2 separate regions of the Homo sapiens genome follow, and region 1 is linked to region 2. A link means that fine-mapping ties the variant in region 2 to the expression of a gene that starts in the linked region. Tissue or cell type: tibial nerve. Region 2 holds a variant in brackets; the other region holds the start of a gene. All regions are shown on one strand. Distances are from middle to middle.

What was found. PIP is the estimated chance that this variant, and not a neighbour inherited with it, causes the effect.
Region 1: APBA2 starts here. The variant in region 2 is fine-mapped to the expression of APBA2 in tibial nerve (GTEx, PIP 0.98).

What each region holds. Positions count from the first base shown.
Region 1 is chr15:28,881,670-28,889,846 of GRCh38, reverse strand. It overlaps APBA2 (amyloid beta precursor protein binding family A member 2), which reads right to left and starts at 3,873. Exons shown (of 15, transcript NM_001353788.2): 1 at 3,569-3,873.
Region 2 is chr15:28,841,406-28,849,582 of GRCh38, reverse strand. GOLGA6L7 (golgin A6 family like 7) reads left to right here and starts at 939. Exons shown (of 9, transcript NM_001365371.2): 1 at 939-1,084; 2 at 2,391-2,519; 3 at 3,334-3,363; 4 at 3,633-3,683; 5 at 3,772-3,865; 6 at 3,948-4,054; 7 at 5,320-5,378; 8 at 5,708-5,849; 9 at 6,143-7,751. The coding sequence starts at 1,034. The coding sequence ends at 7,348. It also overlaps the pseudogene PDCD6IPP2. RefSeq lists a silencer at 671-805 and an enhancer at 4,557-5,103. The variant T/C (reference allele first, on the strand shown) is at 4,952.

The DNA of each region.
Region 1 (8,177 bases), 40 kb before region 2:
CACAAAGCAAGGTTAACAAAGCCAATTTATGTAGGGCTTTCAGGGAGTGGGCAATAAGTGAGGGGCCAGCCATGTGAGCATCTGGGGGTGGCTCATGCCAAGGGGGTGGGAACAGCAGGTGCAAAGGCCCTGAGGCAAGAGTGGCCTGACAAATCTGAGGACCAAGGAATAAGAGGGAAAGAGCCCACATTCAGTTGGGATCTCCAGGATGGACATGCGCCAAGATGACAGGTGGGGATGGGGTGGGGACAACCCAGGGCAGATCTGGGCAGTAAGCCTGTCTGCCTGGAGCCAGGGCAGCCTGGAGGGGCCATTCTTGGGAGCAAGTGGGGGAACTTGAGAAAATCCAGCCGAGTAACGTGGATGTGGAGGGAGCACTGGAAAGCCACTGAAGGCCTGGGCAATGGTGACACACCTGGCCTGGGCCAACTTGCAGAGTCAGGAGTACCCCACAGCCCCCAACCTGGGAAACCTCACAGCCAGCACAGAAATCACAATGCACACAGCAGTGGCACCCCACCAGTACGTAGGGTTCCACAGAGTGAGCCTGGCTGCATGATCTTGAGGTCACCTACCTCCCAGGGCTCCCTTGTGTGTCTGGACAGGGAGAGAGGGGAAGATTGGCTTCAGGGGAGGCGAGAAAAGACGGTGCCCACGACAGCTGACTCAGCCTGTGCCAGCAGGCTGCTCTGAGACACGAGCTGGACCCAACCCAGGCGGTGGGCGGCAGGGGGTTGGGGAGGAACTCTGGGAAACGAAGGAGCCAGAGAAGCCTCCCTGTGGGCACTCGGGCCAACCACCACCCAAGGGAACAAAGAGCACCCCCAGCCCCCGCTGGGCACACAGGCTGCCTCCTGGTGAGCAACCCTCTCAAACTTCACCCCCAGCCCCCACCGGGCACACAGGCTGCCTCCTGGTGAGCAACCATCTCAAACTTGACCTACATCGGGGAGGCCTGCCTGGTGGTCAGTGGCTACCTTACATCCTACCTGTGCCTCCACGTTCCCAGTCCTCACAGCCACCTGGCAAGGGTGAGGAACTGAGACTGCATGGGGAGGGCACGCAGCCTGTGAGTGATACAGCCAGGACCGCCCGCCACCCAGGCCCAGAGCTCTCTCCACTCTCCCCATTCTCTAAGGACCAGGCTGCAAGGCAGGGCATGTGATCTCTGCCGAAGACATTCGAGCCACCCAGTGATGTGTGCTGGGTCTCGATCCCCACCGACCGCCAGTCCTCTCCTCCCCTGGACAGTAAAGGTTTCTCCACGACTTCGGACCATGGTGTCACCTGAGGCCCACACCTGTTGAGTCACCGGGGCAGGTATGCGTGGCAGAGGACAGCCAGGAGCGCCGGAGAGGAGCTGAGGCCTCGAGGGGGTCTCTGAAGCCAGGCTCAACCCCCACTCTCCCCACTCCAACAGCCCTCACCACAGCCACCGCCGCCCAATCCAAACAAAGCCCAGCCTGATGCCAACCTCACCATCAACTGTTTTTCCTCTGACTTCCTCAGTTTTGTCTAGGAAAAATCAAGGTGTCTTATCACCCCTCTCAGCTTCCAGGGGTGTGATCAGTGTCTTTTACAATTATCTCTTATTTTTATCCAGTATTTCTTAGCTCAGTTGGCAAACTAGGTATTTATGCACCTCCATTTCACAATCCATCCCCACCAATTATGCCTGTAAAACTAACATTTTGTTGAAAAAAAGAGGTTAGAACTACTTAAAAAGGTTTTGTAAACAAGTTAACTAGCAGGCCACAACTTGAGTCTAGGGTGTCAGAGAAAACATGCAAGGTGGAAGAGAATGAGGAGCTGACGGTCACCAGTTTCACCTCCTTCCAGCGCCCACCCAACTCTCCTGCTCACACACACTCACACCCCGTGGGACTCAGCCTGCAGCTCCTCCCATCCCAGGAGCCCAGGAGACCGGCAGTAGGGAGGGGCACAGACCACACTTCCTAATAAATAAGAGGGAAGACTCGGTGCCCCATCGCTAATGCCATCACCCAGTCCCAGCCCAGCCATGGAGCCCACTCCAAGGGCCCCCCTGACAGTGCTGCTAGAGCCCACCGAGGGAAGGCTGCCGGCACACAGCCACAAGCTCCAGCTTTACCCACTCACGCCCTGGACATTGCCTGGAGCCCCAGCGTTCCAGGTCCGTGTCACCCTGGCCCTCCTGCCTGGCAGATCCTAAGCTCAGGAGACCCTCTCCAGCCCAGGCTGCAGGGGGAAGCAGCCCCCACGGTCACCCAGGAATCAGCACAGAGGGCAGGGCATCCTGGACGCCCTGGACTGGGAAACCCAGATCCTGTCCCCTGCGTAGTGGCGACACACAGGAGAAACCCCTGCCTCACCTCATTGGAGGGACCCTGACCCAGAGGCCTGAGAAAAAGCCACCTGCAGGCTCCTGGCACCTGCCAACCTGCACCTTAGGAAAACTCGTCCCACTTCAACCTGCAAAGCTCTCGGGTCATTATTTCTAAAATCACTGTCCTTTCTCAAAGAGGAAGGAAAACAGAAAAATAAAACAAAAACAAAAACAGAAAGAGGCACAGGAGGTTGAAGAGGCCAGAGGCAGTTTAGCCCAAAAACAGTGCCAGACGCAAGATGCCGAGTTCGGGGTGCCTCACCCTCCACATGCCCATTTAGGAGCTGACTGCACTCAACCACAGATTTATGTCTGGTGCCTGCCAGGTCGTATCTGAATAGATCTGAAAAATTAAGCCTTCCTTCTGCCAGTAAATACGAAGTTAAGACTAGCAGGCCCCTCTAAGGCTCTGCTCTCCACGGCGGTCCTCGGCAGGCGTCGGAGAAAGGAAGTTCGCCCCCTCCCCGCCTGGGCACACCGAGGCCCGCTGCCCGGCCCATGGCGCCCTGCTTGGGGACCGGGGGCCTCGATGTTCTCCTTCACCATCTGCAGCCAGATCTCCCGCCAGCAGCCTTGCCAGGCAGTGCCTGCCATGGGGAAGGGGCCAGGCCGAGGGGCAGGTCCGCGCCGTGCCCCCAACCGGGCACCTGCAGCCCAGGAGCAACGGGGTGTGGGGTTTTGAATTGATAAGTTTTCCCCTCTGGGCCTTATTATAAAGGGAAAGGGAAGGGGGCGAAGATCTGGGCTTGGGTTCTCTGGGGGCAGCGAACCCAGAGGCGACCCCAAACTCAGTAGTTGCCGCCCGGCACGGGGACTTGATGCCGGTGCCAAGCAGCCCGGCCAGCCCGGCAGGAGTCGAGCGGACAGCCCCGCCACACAGCGCCTCTTGTCCGCGCCGGGTGGCCCCTTGCCGCGGTGCCCCCCGCGCGGGATGCGAGAGCCGCCGCCTGGTCCCCGCCCCGCCCGCCCACCCGTCGTGGGAGGGGGAAGCGGCCGGTCAGAGAGGAGTGGGGCCGCCGGGCTGTACCCCCATATCCCAGCGGCGGCCGCCCCGCAGCCACGCTGAGTCGGGAGGGCAGCGCTCTGGAGCGCTCGGGCCGCAACCTCCGCGCCGCCCCCCACGCGTCCGGGTCCTCGCGGCGCCCCGGGCGGCCCCAGGCTGCCGCCGCCGGCAAGTCAGGCAGCCCAGGTTCCCCAGCTTACCTGGCCAGGGCGCTGGGCTGCCCGGGTACGCCGCCGTCCCCGCCCCGCTGCCGCCGGCTCAGTCCGCGAGGCCGAGCTCTTTGTGAGCCCGCGCCGAGCCGCACACCGCGACTGCTAATGAGCCCGGGAAGCTGAATAGCTTCCCGAATAGCGGCGGGCGCGCCCCGGACGCAGCGTACGGCACGCAGGGCCGCCTCTGCCGGGCGCACGCGGCGCGGCTGCGGGGCGCATCCCGCACCGGCCTGCGGCTGCCGGGCCTGCGCCCCCGCCCCGGCCGCTTCCGCCTCACCCGCGCCGGGCACACTGGGGCCGGAAAACGATTCCCGGCTAGATCGCGCGCCGTGAAGAGAGGGAAGACAAAGATGCGTCCGTGCCGGGCGTGCGCGAGGTCCTGCGCCCCCTGGCCCCGGCGCTGGGACAGTCTGCAGGGCAGGAGGGTGCACTCGGGACCCCGGGTCCCCCCGGGCCGGTCTCCGGGATCGGGGCTGGGACCCAGGCGCTGGAAGGCGCGGCGCCCCGAACGCCCCGGGCCCTGGGGAGCACACAGATTCCCGGGCGTGCCCCGGCCGTGCTGGCTGGGGAGCTGCAGGGGTCTGGTCCCGCAGGTAGAGCCAGTGAACGCGAGGCTCCGCAGGTAGAGCCGGTGAACGCGAGGCTCCGCACCTTGCCCCGGCCGCCGCGCCCTGCTTGCTCGGCCCCGCGCAGCTGTAATGGGGGACCCTAGAGCGAAGAACCCTCGAGCGAAGAACTCTCGGGGATCGCGGCCTCCGAAGGCCCCATCCGGCAGAGGAGGCCCCCTGCTGCCTCCCCACCGCAGCTCCCCTAGGCGCATGCTGGACTCCCAAGTCTTCCCTGGCGGTCCCCGGTAACCATCCCAGCACCCCGTTTCTGATACTCTGTGCTGCTTTAGCCCCCAGCCCCAGGGCCTCACTCCAGGGCTTTCTCTCCTTGCTGTCCTAAATGGAGAGAACCCTGACCTCCGCGGGGCCCTGGGGAGCGTACACTCCTAGACACTCACATGCATCCCCAGGGGAGCCAGTCTTCCGCCCCTACAGCGCGAGAAATGCCCTGGAGGCCCTCGAAGGTCGTGCTGGAGACTCCGGTGTCACCTTTGGCCCTCTGGCCCTTTCACTGAGTCCCAGGCAGATGTGATGAGCCATGGGAGATGCACAGGATGCCTTGTCTGGGCAGAGCGGGGGCTCAGGGGCCTCCCTCCCCCCAAATCGTGGTGATTTGCCCTCGTTTTCTTTTCTCCTGTGGCTGGATTAGGCGAAGCTGTGGCATGGGAAGTTCTGCCCAGGTCAGAAGGCACAGAAGGGCAGGGGGACTTGGGAGTGAGGACAGCGCATCTTCCTGCTGCCCTGAGGGCCCGAGCTGAGACCCTAAGGAGAAGGGGCTGGGGGAAGCCGAATCCTGAGATGGACTAGGGTTAGATACACTGTGGACTTGGCCTCTCCACACCCTGCCCCCACCAAACATTCACAGGTTTCCAGGGCCAGAGCCGCCAGTGGGGGCTGCTCCTGGTAGGGGAGCTTTGTAGCCACAGGGCCAAACAAAGGGGCAAAGGCCAGGGCAGGCCAACGAGGTTCCTGACCTATGCCCCTCCGTACTCAGATGAGCACACCTTCACTGTCTACTTTCCACCTGCATAGACATTCTGCTTACCTGGCTAACACAAAGTTCATCCAGCCTCCTGTGGCCCAGCCTTTCACCAATGCCAATAGTGGGAAGCAACAATTAAGAAGAAGTGATTCTGAGAAGATAAATGCAGTCATCTTCTTGCCTTACTGTTATGTGGTCACATCCCATAGGAAACCAGACACCTGTGCCTGAAGCTGATCCACACAACACCCCCCACCTCCTCAAACCCCCACCCCCATCTGTGTGAACGTGTGTGGGCCGGTAAGTTGCATGCTGTTCCTTCAACAGCCTCCCTTGAGATCTTCCCATGAGCAGGCTCTGGGCCAGTCACTGGAAATTAAACCCCATCGCAGCACCCGGGAGTGATAGTGGCTGAAGTCCTCAGTCCACAAGATGAAAGGTATAGGCCTAGGGCCAAGAACAGTGGCTCCCACCTATAATCCCAATACTTTGGGAAGCTGAAGCAGGAGGCTCGCTTGAGCCCAGGAGTTCAAGACTGCAGTGAGTTGTGATCGTGCCACTGCACTCCAGCCTTGGTGACAGAACAAGACCCTATCATTTTAAAAAATGAAATAAATTAAATAAATTTAAAAATAAAGGTACAGGCCTGCCCCCAGCCTCACTCAGGACTCCTAAATCTGGTGAGCTTGAGCCAACTGCCAGTATTCAGAGAATTTTTGAAGAATCATTAGGACAAACAGTTAGTGCATGTGAGGCTTAAAACCTAGATGACAGGTTGATAGGTGCAGCAGACCACCATGGCACACATATACCCATGTAACAAACCTACACGTTCTGTACTTGTATCTGGGAACTTAAAATTTTAAATTTAAAAAAAAAAAGTATCTTGGAATGGGAAAGGCCTTTCTAAGTATGCAACAAAATCAAAAAGTGGTAACAAAAAAACAGCTAAGTTTGACTTCAAAGAAACTCTGGCATGGCAATCACTACCATAAGCAAAGTCTACAACAAAGGGGAAAAAATTATTTGCAATTCATATCACAAGCAGCTAATTTCCCTAACACATAGATAGCATCTAGAAATTGATAAGAAAAAAAAAATCAAAAGAAGGCATCACGGATCATCACCAGGCCCCCACCTTGGCTCACACCTGTAATCCCAGCTACTCAGGAGGCTGAGACAGGAGGATCACTTAAGCCCAGGAGTTCCAGGCTGCAGTGAACTATGATCATCCCAATGCACTAAGCCTGGGCAGCAGTATGAGACTGTCTCTTAACAGAAAAGACAAAGAAACAGGTAAAGGGTAAGAAGCAGACAATTCACAGGGAAGGAAATACAAATGACTTTTAAACATCTGAAAAGCTGTCCTCCCTTATTCATAATAAGAAATGCAAATTAAGCCAGGCATGGTGGCTCACACCTGTAATCCCAACACTTTGGGAGGCCGAGGCAGGTGGATCACTTGAGGTCAGGAGTTTGAGACAAGCCTGGCCAACACGGTGAAACCCCGTCTCTACTAGAAATACAAAAATTAGTTGGGCATGGTGGTGAGCACCGGTAATCCCAGCTACTTGGGAGGCTGAGGCAGGAGAATCGCTTGAACCTGGGAGGCAAAGGTTGCAGTGAGCTGAGATCGCACCACTGCACTTGAGCCTGGGCAACAGAGTGAGACTCCATCTCAAAAAAAGAAAAAGAAATGCAAATTAAAACTATGCTGAGATGTCATTGTGTTCACTGATCAGAGACCCAGGAGTTCAGTAATACAATATATTCCAGAAAGCAAGAGGAAACTGGCAGATACCCACACTGCCCATGGGAGTGTAAATCAGTACAACTTCTGTGTAGGAAAATCAGATGATGTCTATCAAAATTACAAATGCACAAGCTCTTTGACCTAAGAATTCACTTCTAGGAATTTTTTGACTTGTATATCACACGTGCAAAACAGGCATGAGTAGAATCATTCATGGTGCTATGTTTCTGTAGTAAGTGACTGCAGACAATCTTGATACCCATGAAAAGGGCACTGTTCAATGCATGAGGGCACTTCCCAACACTGAAATAGAATGCAGCCATAAAAGAAGGAAGAAACGCATGATAAATTAACATGGGAAGTTCTCCAAGATAATTGTTAAGTGAAAGAACAAAGGGCAGAAGATGTGTGTAGTATGCCACCATGTGAGTAAAAAAAGCAAAAAGGAAAAAAGGGTGAGCCTATAGATGCTCATATACAATAATAAAGCCTTTCTGGAAGGATCACAGTAAACTGAAAAATGTTGTCACCCTTGGGAAAGAAAGTAGTGTCTGGGGCGGGGGTGACAGGAAAACTTTTCAGTGATTTTCCTTTTCCTTTACTTTTTCTTTTTTTTTTTTTTTTTTGAGACAGAGTCTCGCTCTGTCACCCAGGCTGGAGTGCAGTAGCTCTGTCTTGGCTCACTGCAAGCTCCGCCTCCTGGGTTCACGCCATTCTCCTGCCTCAGCCTCCAGAGTAGCTGGGACTACAGACGCCCGCCACCATGCCCGGCTAATTTTTTGTATTTTTTAGTAGAGACGGGGTTTCACTGTGTTAGCCAGGATGGTCTCGATCTCCTGACCTCGTGATCTGCCTGCCTCGGCCTCCCAAAGTTCTGGGATTACAGGCATGAGCCACCGCACCTGGCCAATTTTTAATTTTTGAAGTATATGATATTATCTATCTCTGAAAAAAAAATGTAATTATCATTCTTAACCCTGGTTTTTAACCCTTTGGAGGGTAAAAGATCTCTGAAATCTTTTGTCTATTGTTTTAGGGGGAAAAAGAAGAACAAGGAAGGTCTGTGACTATATGTTTGGACCACATGGCTGTGATCCCTACCACCACTTAGTGACAGCATACATGAATTGCATGCTTAATGCCGATACCATTCAGCCTAGAGGGGCTCCTGGACCAGGCCAGATTTCCTACAAGGTGTTACCAAGTGGAGTTGGAAACTTGTCACCTCCTCACACCCTAACTTATTTTTTAAAA
Region 2 (8,177 bases):
GAGGTGGGGGGGTCAGCCCCCCGCCCAGCCAGTCGCCCCGTCCGGGAGGTGAGGGGCGCCTCTGCCCGGCTGCCCCTACTGGGAAGTGAGGAGCCCCTCTGCCTGGCCGCCACCCCGTCTGGGAGGTGTGCCCAGCAGCTCATTGAGAATGGGCCATGATGACAATGGCGGTTTTGTAGAATAGAAAGGGGGGAAAGGTGGGGAAAAGATTGAGAGGTTGGATGGTTGCCGTGTCTGTGTAGAGGGAGGTAGACATGGGAGACTTCTCATTTTGTTCTGTACTAAGAAAAATTATTCTGCCTTGGGATCCTGTTGATCTGTGACCTTACCCCCAACCCTGTGCTCTCTGAAACATGTGCTGTGTCCACTCAGGGTTAAATGGATTAAGGGCGGTGCAAGATGTGCTTTGTTAAACAGATGTTTGAAGGCAGCATGCTCGTTAAAAGTCATCACCACTCTCTAATCTCAAGTACCCCGGGACACAAACACTGCAGAAGGCCGTAGGGTCCTCTGCCTAGGAAAACCAGAGACCTTTGTTCACTTGTTTATCTGCTGACCTTCCCTCCACTATTGTCCTATGACCCTGCCAAATCCCCCTCTGCGAGAAACACCCAATGATCAATTAAAAAAAACAAAACAAAACAAAACAAAAAAAAACATTATATTATCGACTATACCTTAAATTATAATAAAAAGTTATATATGTAAAAAAAAAAAAAAGTAAGTGAAAGCCAGCCCCGCCCCTCTCCCAGAGTGGGCGGGGACAGCAGTTCCATGGGAGGCTTTCCTTGTGACATCACAGGACCTTCATGACCCGCAGCTGCCTGGCCCCGCCTCCTTTCCCTTTCATCTTTCTCATTGACCAATGGGCTTGGAGCATTAAGGCCACGCCCCTTTTCCGCATTCTAGTGCAGCCCCGGTGACGCCTCCTGTGGCTCAGTCACATAGCTGTGTGGTACGTGACTGGAGGCATATCACTGTCCTCGCCTGGATCACGCCAATGTGACCCCAACCCCACCACCCTCCCCACCCCATGATGTCCGAAAAAACCCAACAAAGAAAATTGGCTGGGACCAAGAAAAAGGTAAAACGCATCGGATTGCAGCACCCCAACCCCAACCCAGCCCCAGGTCCCCTCTGATGGCAGAACAGCTGCCAGAATCCGTGTCACTCCAGAGGCACGCAGGGCCGGGCCCCCCCCAGTGCCTCTGGGCTCCCCCAACCAAAATCTTGTGTCAGCCCCAACCCCTCAGCAGTCCTGCCCCTGCCCTCACCGGTCACCCCAGGGTGACTTTCAGCCGGTGACTCGTGGGGCTCCCTGCTTTGTACTCTGCCCTCACCTCCTATTGTCCAAAAATGGATCTCCCTGGGCCCTTCGGGCTCACGTTCCCAAGGAACCGGATGCCCCAGCACCTGCCCTCACCAGTCACCCCAGGGTGACTTTGGGCAGGTGACTCCTGGGGCTCCCCACTCCATACTCGGCCCTCACCTACCGCTGCCCCAAGCCTGACTTCCCTGGGCTCTTTGGGCTCACGTCTCCAAGTACCTGGGTCCCAACCCTGTGACCCCATGCCAATCTCAAAGAGGCAACTTGGGCACAGCACTGATGGGATAATGGGTTTGGTTTGGTTTTCTCCCAGGCTTCTACTCTCCAGAGAGACTTTAACAGTTTTTTCTAAGTTCTCCACTTCATATTTGAATTCTCCATGGTTCTGGGACCAGAGTGCCCATCAGTCAGTGATCTTTGAAGTGAGATTTGCTCATCTTCTGTGCAAGAGATCTTGGGAAACTGGACTTGACAACTTGAATCTTCCTCATCTCATCTCAACCTGGGGTACTTTGAGTGCCACAGGATACATATGGGGCATCTTTCTGAAGCATCAGTTTTCCTTGATTCTCGTGGGAGACACAAAACATTAATGTTCTTAGGGATGATAGTCACATAGATTTCAAAGAGTATACAAGACTTCTCTCTGAAATGCAGCTTGGGTTGTCCTCTTTCTGTTTAATTCCCACATTTAACAGAAAGGCTGCCTTCTGCCCTGAGGATACATGACTCTAAGAGGATGTACGACTGTAAACCACACAGTGTACACCTTCCTGCCTACTTTTTACTTTTCTACCTCTGCCTCTGGTTTTGGTCTCTGGCAGCTGCTGATTTGTGGCAACACCCCAGAGCTCAGAGTCAGAAGACTGAGTTTCAGTTCCATTATTGCCTTTCTTTTAGCCATGGTATCAATCCCTCTCAGTCACTAAGTGATTGCGACAACACCTCGTACAGTCGTTGGTGGCATTAAGTCAGATCGTCTATGAGAGTATTTTGTATAAACTGTAAAGTGACTGTAGGAGCTTGTAGTTCTCATGAGTATCACTGCTCCTCTTTTCCACAGTTTACAGACTATCATCAGTGGAACAGTGCTGGTGTTGGTACCGGAGCAACCGACACCAAAAAGAAGAAAATAAATCATGGCGCTAACCCTGAGACAACCACTTCGGGGGGCTGCCACTCGCCTGAGGATGTGAGTCTTGGCTGGCCGGTCTCCTGAGGACAAGGGGCACAAGGGGGAGGTCGAGGGTAACTGTTAAGATTGTGGAAGGAAGAACTGCTGGGTACTGGCTAAGAATTCTGGGTTTGAGTCCTACTTCTCTCTCCAACTGCGAGGGACACGGTTTAGGGAAAATTGCTCGAGCTCTTTGGGCCTCTCTTTTCACATCTGTAAAATGGGGATGGTAATGTTTTACTTACATGTGTGAAGCTTAAATCAGATTTGTTGCTGTTGTTTTTGTGTTAATCCCTAGTCCAGGGCCTGCTGTAAGCTCCCCTCCTCTTTGGGCTTCCGTTTCCTGAGGAGGTAGAGTTAGAGTATCAGAGGTTCTGTTTGCTCTGAGAGTCTGAGATTTAAAGATTCACTAGAATGGAAACCTTGGGGCCAAGGGCTCCTGTCTGCCTTTTCCGTCCTATATCCCAGCAGTGAAGAACCGTCCCCGGCCCCTATGTGCTTGCTCAATGCTTGTTGAATGAACACATCTTTCTCCATCACAAGCTGGCAGAAGGGTGGGCTTTTCTCACACTCTTATGTCGGAAGGTTTATGTTACTGTCTTTTCCAGAGAATCTAGTTTCAGACTTTCAGTTCTGTGGCTGTGGGCAAAAGCCAACAAAGACCCAAATCCTTTTTCTTTGGGCGTTAAGGAAAGTTGACCAGTTTGTGTTCCCATTGGGTCTGAGAACTTTGCCCTTAAAATCCATTCCTGACCCCTGCCTACCGCTTCCTGGCCTGGGGAATAGAGTCGAGGGACCACCCTCAGTCACCTTCCTTTGACTCTCCCCACAGAAACAACAGAACCGAGCTCAGCTGAAAGAGGTAACATGGTTTCTTTCTTTGCTCACGACATGACCGCTGGGTTTGGGGGGCACTCAGATGTAGAGGCCCCAGTCTCGTCTCGCCTACTCCCAGCTTGGGGAGGAAGGCTCACCTCCCAGCTTCCACCCCATCCCCACAGGGTCCCTGATAACCTGGTCCCATGGGTGGGCCTGTCCTGGGACAGTGGGGCCATTCTGGGGGCATGTCTCTTGCTGTGCCATCTCTGCCTCCCTCTAGTAAGAGCTCTGTCTTCCTCTTCTTTTCTATAGGAAAATAAGGCAAGCCACCAACATCAGCAAGCCCTAAGGAGGCAGCTAGAGGTGAGTGGAGGGTGTGAAGTTCCCTCCTGTCCTCTGGAGAAGGTTTCTTTGCTTCTCTTTCAGCACTTGCTTTTCTTGTCTCCCAAAGGCCCAGGATCATACCATACGAATCCTTATGTGTCAGAAAACTGAACTGGAGACAGCGCTCCATGACAGCCAGGATGCTGCCAGGAAATTTGAAGGTGGGAATCTGGGCACCCCGTCATCCTTCAACCTGGCACTTTCACAGGCCTTTGGGCTGCAGCTCAACCTCTCTCATTCCAGAAGATTCCAAGGATCTGGCAGCCCGCCTGCATCATTCCTGGCACTTTGCAGGAGAGTTACAGCGGGCTCTCTCTGCTATGTCCGCAGAGCACGAGAGGGCGGACAAGGTGAGTCCAACCACCTACCCGGTCCCCTGGGAGCCCAGCTTCGCAGATGGAGGAATGAGCCTAAAGGTCCCTTCTGCAGGATGCAGTGTCCTGCCCAGAAGACAGCATGGGCCATTTCTTGCTGCTTTTGTGCGTGGTTGTTAGAGGCAGGTTGGGGCTGAGTCAGCTGCTGTGGGTGAGTTGCGGGGCGCTGTGGGGAGCGAGCACTGGACACAGAGCTCGGAGGCCAAGTGCCCACCCCACCCATACTTGGCTGTGGCCTTGGTCAAATCCTAGGCGGAGTTGAGGGTACTTGTACCATGAAGGTACAGAAGAGTATCTTTAGTATGTTACCATTTGTGTAGAGAGAGGGAACACATGTACGTGTGTGTGTGTGTGTGTGTGTGTGTGTGTGTGTGTGTGTACGTACGTATTATGGTAATATACATAAAACATGTTTGTAAGGATTCATAAAAAACTCAGGAGAGAGGAACAGTGTTGGGGGAAGATATTTCCCTTCTGTACCTTCTGAGGTTTGGACTATGCCAATGTATCATTCTTTCAAAAATCAACAAAGGATTAATTTCCTCCTCCTTATCTGTGCCCCTACCCCCAACCAAAAGAATGGGCTTAGAGAATCAGATATACCTGGGTGTTGAAATCCCAGCTCTAAGTGATCTTAGGCAAGCACTTAACCTTTAATACCCCATGTTTTTCATCTACACAATAGAGGTGATAATGATAACTGTCTCCTGTGGTGGCTGTGAGGATTAAATGGGATTGTTAGCATAGTGCCTGGTGAAGCACTCAAGAAAGGTTCCAACAGTGGTAATAATAACAGTAATAGCAATAACAATATTATCTGATCGCTCTGGGCCCCTGTTAGCCAGCTATCAATTCAGTCTCTTTCTCTGTGCC[T/C]TCCACCCTTACTGAGTTCTCCGAAAAACAAGTGAGAGCCAGGTGCAGTGGCACATGCCTGTAATCCCAGCTACTTAGGAGGCTGAGGCAGAAGAATCGCTTGAAGCCGGGAGGCGGAGGTTGCGGTGGGGTGAGATCGCGCCATTGCACTCCAGCCTGGGCAACAAGAGCGAAACTCCATCTCAAAAAAAAAAAAAAAAAGAAAAGAAAAACAAATGACACCACGGGTTTGGAAACGCCTTGAGAACATGTCGGGTGTGACGGAGAGGAGCAAGTGTTACTGTGGAGTATCAGTGTAGCTGTCGTTACTGGTCGTCCAGCTGCTCCTCTGCCTGCTGTATCCTGACTTGACCTTTCTCTGTTTGCAGTACATCAAGGAGTTAACAAAGGAGAGGGAAGCCATGAGTCTGGAGCTGTTCAGGAACATGTAGGATAGGGGAGGGGGGGATGGGAGGTCTGAGAGCCCTTAGCGTGGGTGGTGTGCTGGGAGGTGGGGGGTACAGGTGAGCATGGTAGGGGGTCATACAGGTTTACATGTGTGTGCAGGGAAGCTCCAGTGCCGGCTGTGCCACTGACTCATGGGGTAGCCTCAGGCAACTCATGTCTTCTCTCTGGCCTGCCACCTGGGACTTTTAATTCCTGGGGTCCCTTCCAGTGCCACGGTTCTGTGGTTGTGGGGCGAGGGTAGAGGGTCGATCACCAAAGCGGTCCTTTCTGTTCTTCGTTCATTCCTTTCTCTACTGCCTCCGGCCATAGCATAACCAATAAGGAGCTGAAGGAGAAAAATGCCGAACTACAAGAAAAACTTCGACTGGTAGAAACTGAAAAGTCTGAGATCCAGCTCCACATCAAGGAGCTAAAAAGGAAACTGGAGACGGACAAAATCCCGCTGCCACAGGTGAGCGGCGGCAGCCCCGGGGGTGTGGGAGCCGCATCCGGCTGGGACATGGTCTAGGGATCATGCAGGGTGTGGGGAGGCTCCAGCCAAGAGCTGGAAAATTTGGGTCCTTGTTCTGGTCCCACCACAGAATCCTCTAGAGTGTGCTAAAAATCTACAAATTGGGACCATGCCTGGGAAATCAGAACCTCAGGGTTACGGCTTAAAATTTCTTTTTAAAGAATCATAGACGAAAACCGTTATTTTATAGATTACATTTATATACCTAGCTTATGACTCTATTTCCTTTTGAGGTTCAAACCAACACTTTGCAGGAGAAGATGTGGAGGCAGGAGGAGGAGCTACGGGATCAGGAGGAGCTACGGGATCAGGAGAAGCTACGGAAGCACGAGGAGAAGATGTGGAGACAGGAGCAGAGGCTGCGGGACCAGGAGAAGGAGCTGCGGGAGCAGGAGCAGCAGATGCAGGAGCAGGAGGAGCAGATGCGGAAGCAGGAGGAGCAGATGCGGAAGCAGGAGGAGCAGATGCGGAAGCAGGAGGAGCAGATGCGGAAGCAGGAGGAGCAGATGCGGAAGCAGGAGGAGCAGATGCGGAAGCAGGAGGAGCAGATGGGGAAGCAGGAGGAGCAGATGGGGGAGCAGGAGGAGCAGATGCGGAAGCAGGAGAAGCAGATGCTGAAGCAGAAGGAGCAGATGCGGAAGCAGGAGGAGCAGATGTGGAAGCAGGAGGAGCAGATAGGGGAGCAGGAGGAGCAGATGCGGAAGCAGGAGGAGCAGATGTGGAAGCAGGAGGAGCAGATAGGGGAGCAGGAGGAGCAGATGCGAAAGCAGGAGGAGCAGATGTGGAAGCAGGAGGAGCAGATGGGGGAGCAGATGAGGAAGCAGGAGGAGCAGATGGGGGAGCAGGAGGAGCAGATCCGGAAGCAGGAGGAGCAGATGGGGGAGCAGGAGGAGCAGATGCGGAAGCAGGAGGAGCAGATGGGGGAGCAGGAGGAGCAGATGCGGAAGCAGGAGGAGCAGATGGGGGAGCAGGAGGAGCAGATGAGGAAGCAGGAGGAGCAGATGGGGGAGCAGGAGGAGCAGATGGGGGAGCAGGAGGAGCAGATGCGGAAGCAGGTGGAGAGGCTGCAATTCAAGGAGGAGAGGCTGTGGGATGAGTATGAGAAGATGCAGGAGGAGGAGGAGAAGATCCGGAGGCAGGTGGAGAAGAGGCGGGAGAAGAAGGAGAGGATGGGAGAGCAGGAGAAGACGCAGGAGGAGCGGTGCTCAGAGCCCTGCCTCCCTCCCTCCAAATATCCTTCTGATATGAGCCACCCTGGCAGCCTGGAGCCTGCACGAGAGGCCGGGAAGGGTTATTCCCATGACAACCGCACTGCACAGATCATGCAGCTGCCCCCTGGAATGAAGAACGCCCAGGAGCGCCCAGGCTTAGGCAGCACCTCCTGCATCCCATTCTTCTACGGAGGAGACAAGAAAAAGATCAAGATCATCAGTATCTAAAAAGAACGGTCAACAAGGCCTACAGAAGTGTAAGCCGCCATGTGACCTTGTGAATACAGTCTGAGAACAAACTTGAAAAAAAGAAAATTTATTTTAAATTGTGGCAAAATACTGGCCGGGCACGGTGGCCTGCACCTGTAATCACACCACTTTGGGAGGCCTAGGCGGGTGGATCACCAATCCCAGCTACGTGGGAGGTTGAGGTTGCAGTGAGCTGAGATCACACCACTGCACTCCAGGCTGGGTGACAGAGTGAAACTCCCATTTCAAAAAAAAAAAAAAAAATTCTACCTGAGGACTCTAATATCTATGTATGTTTCTATTGTTTTTTTTGTTTGTTTTCTCCTTTTGTCTTGCGTTGTCTTGTCTTATGGCATGCCTAGTAAAGTTTTATCTGCCTCCAGAGAGTACTGACTTTGACTTTATGGCACACAATTGGCGTTCAAGCAGATCGCCTTCATCTAGTTTGGGACTAAGCTGGCTCAAAGCAGGTTTTAGTTTTTGTGACAGCTGGTCTATTTTTTATTCTTTTGGACTCTTAGGGGTGGCCCTTCCAGGATCCCCACCAAGGTCTCATCTCCTTACTGGGACCCAAATTCTCATTATGTCATTTCAGCCCTGTGAGAGTGCCAAACATTCAGCTAGGCTCTCCAGCCTCTTAACTATCACTTCATACTCAGTTTCTTAGCCTCTTAGCCCTCTACTGTTGACCGATCACCAAATGTGGGAAAAGCACTAAGGACTGTCAGGATCACCTCCTAGGCCTGGTCACTCAAGTCCTGGCTGAGGTCCCCAATTACCTTCCAACAATTGTTTTTGATGGTGGGGG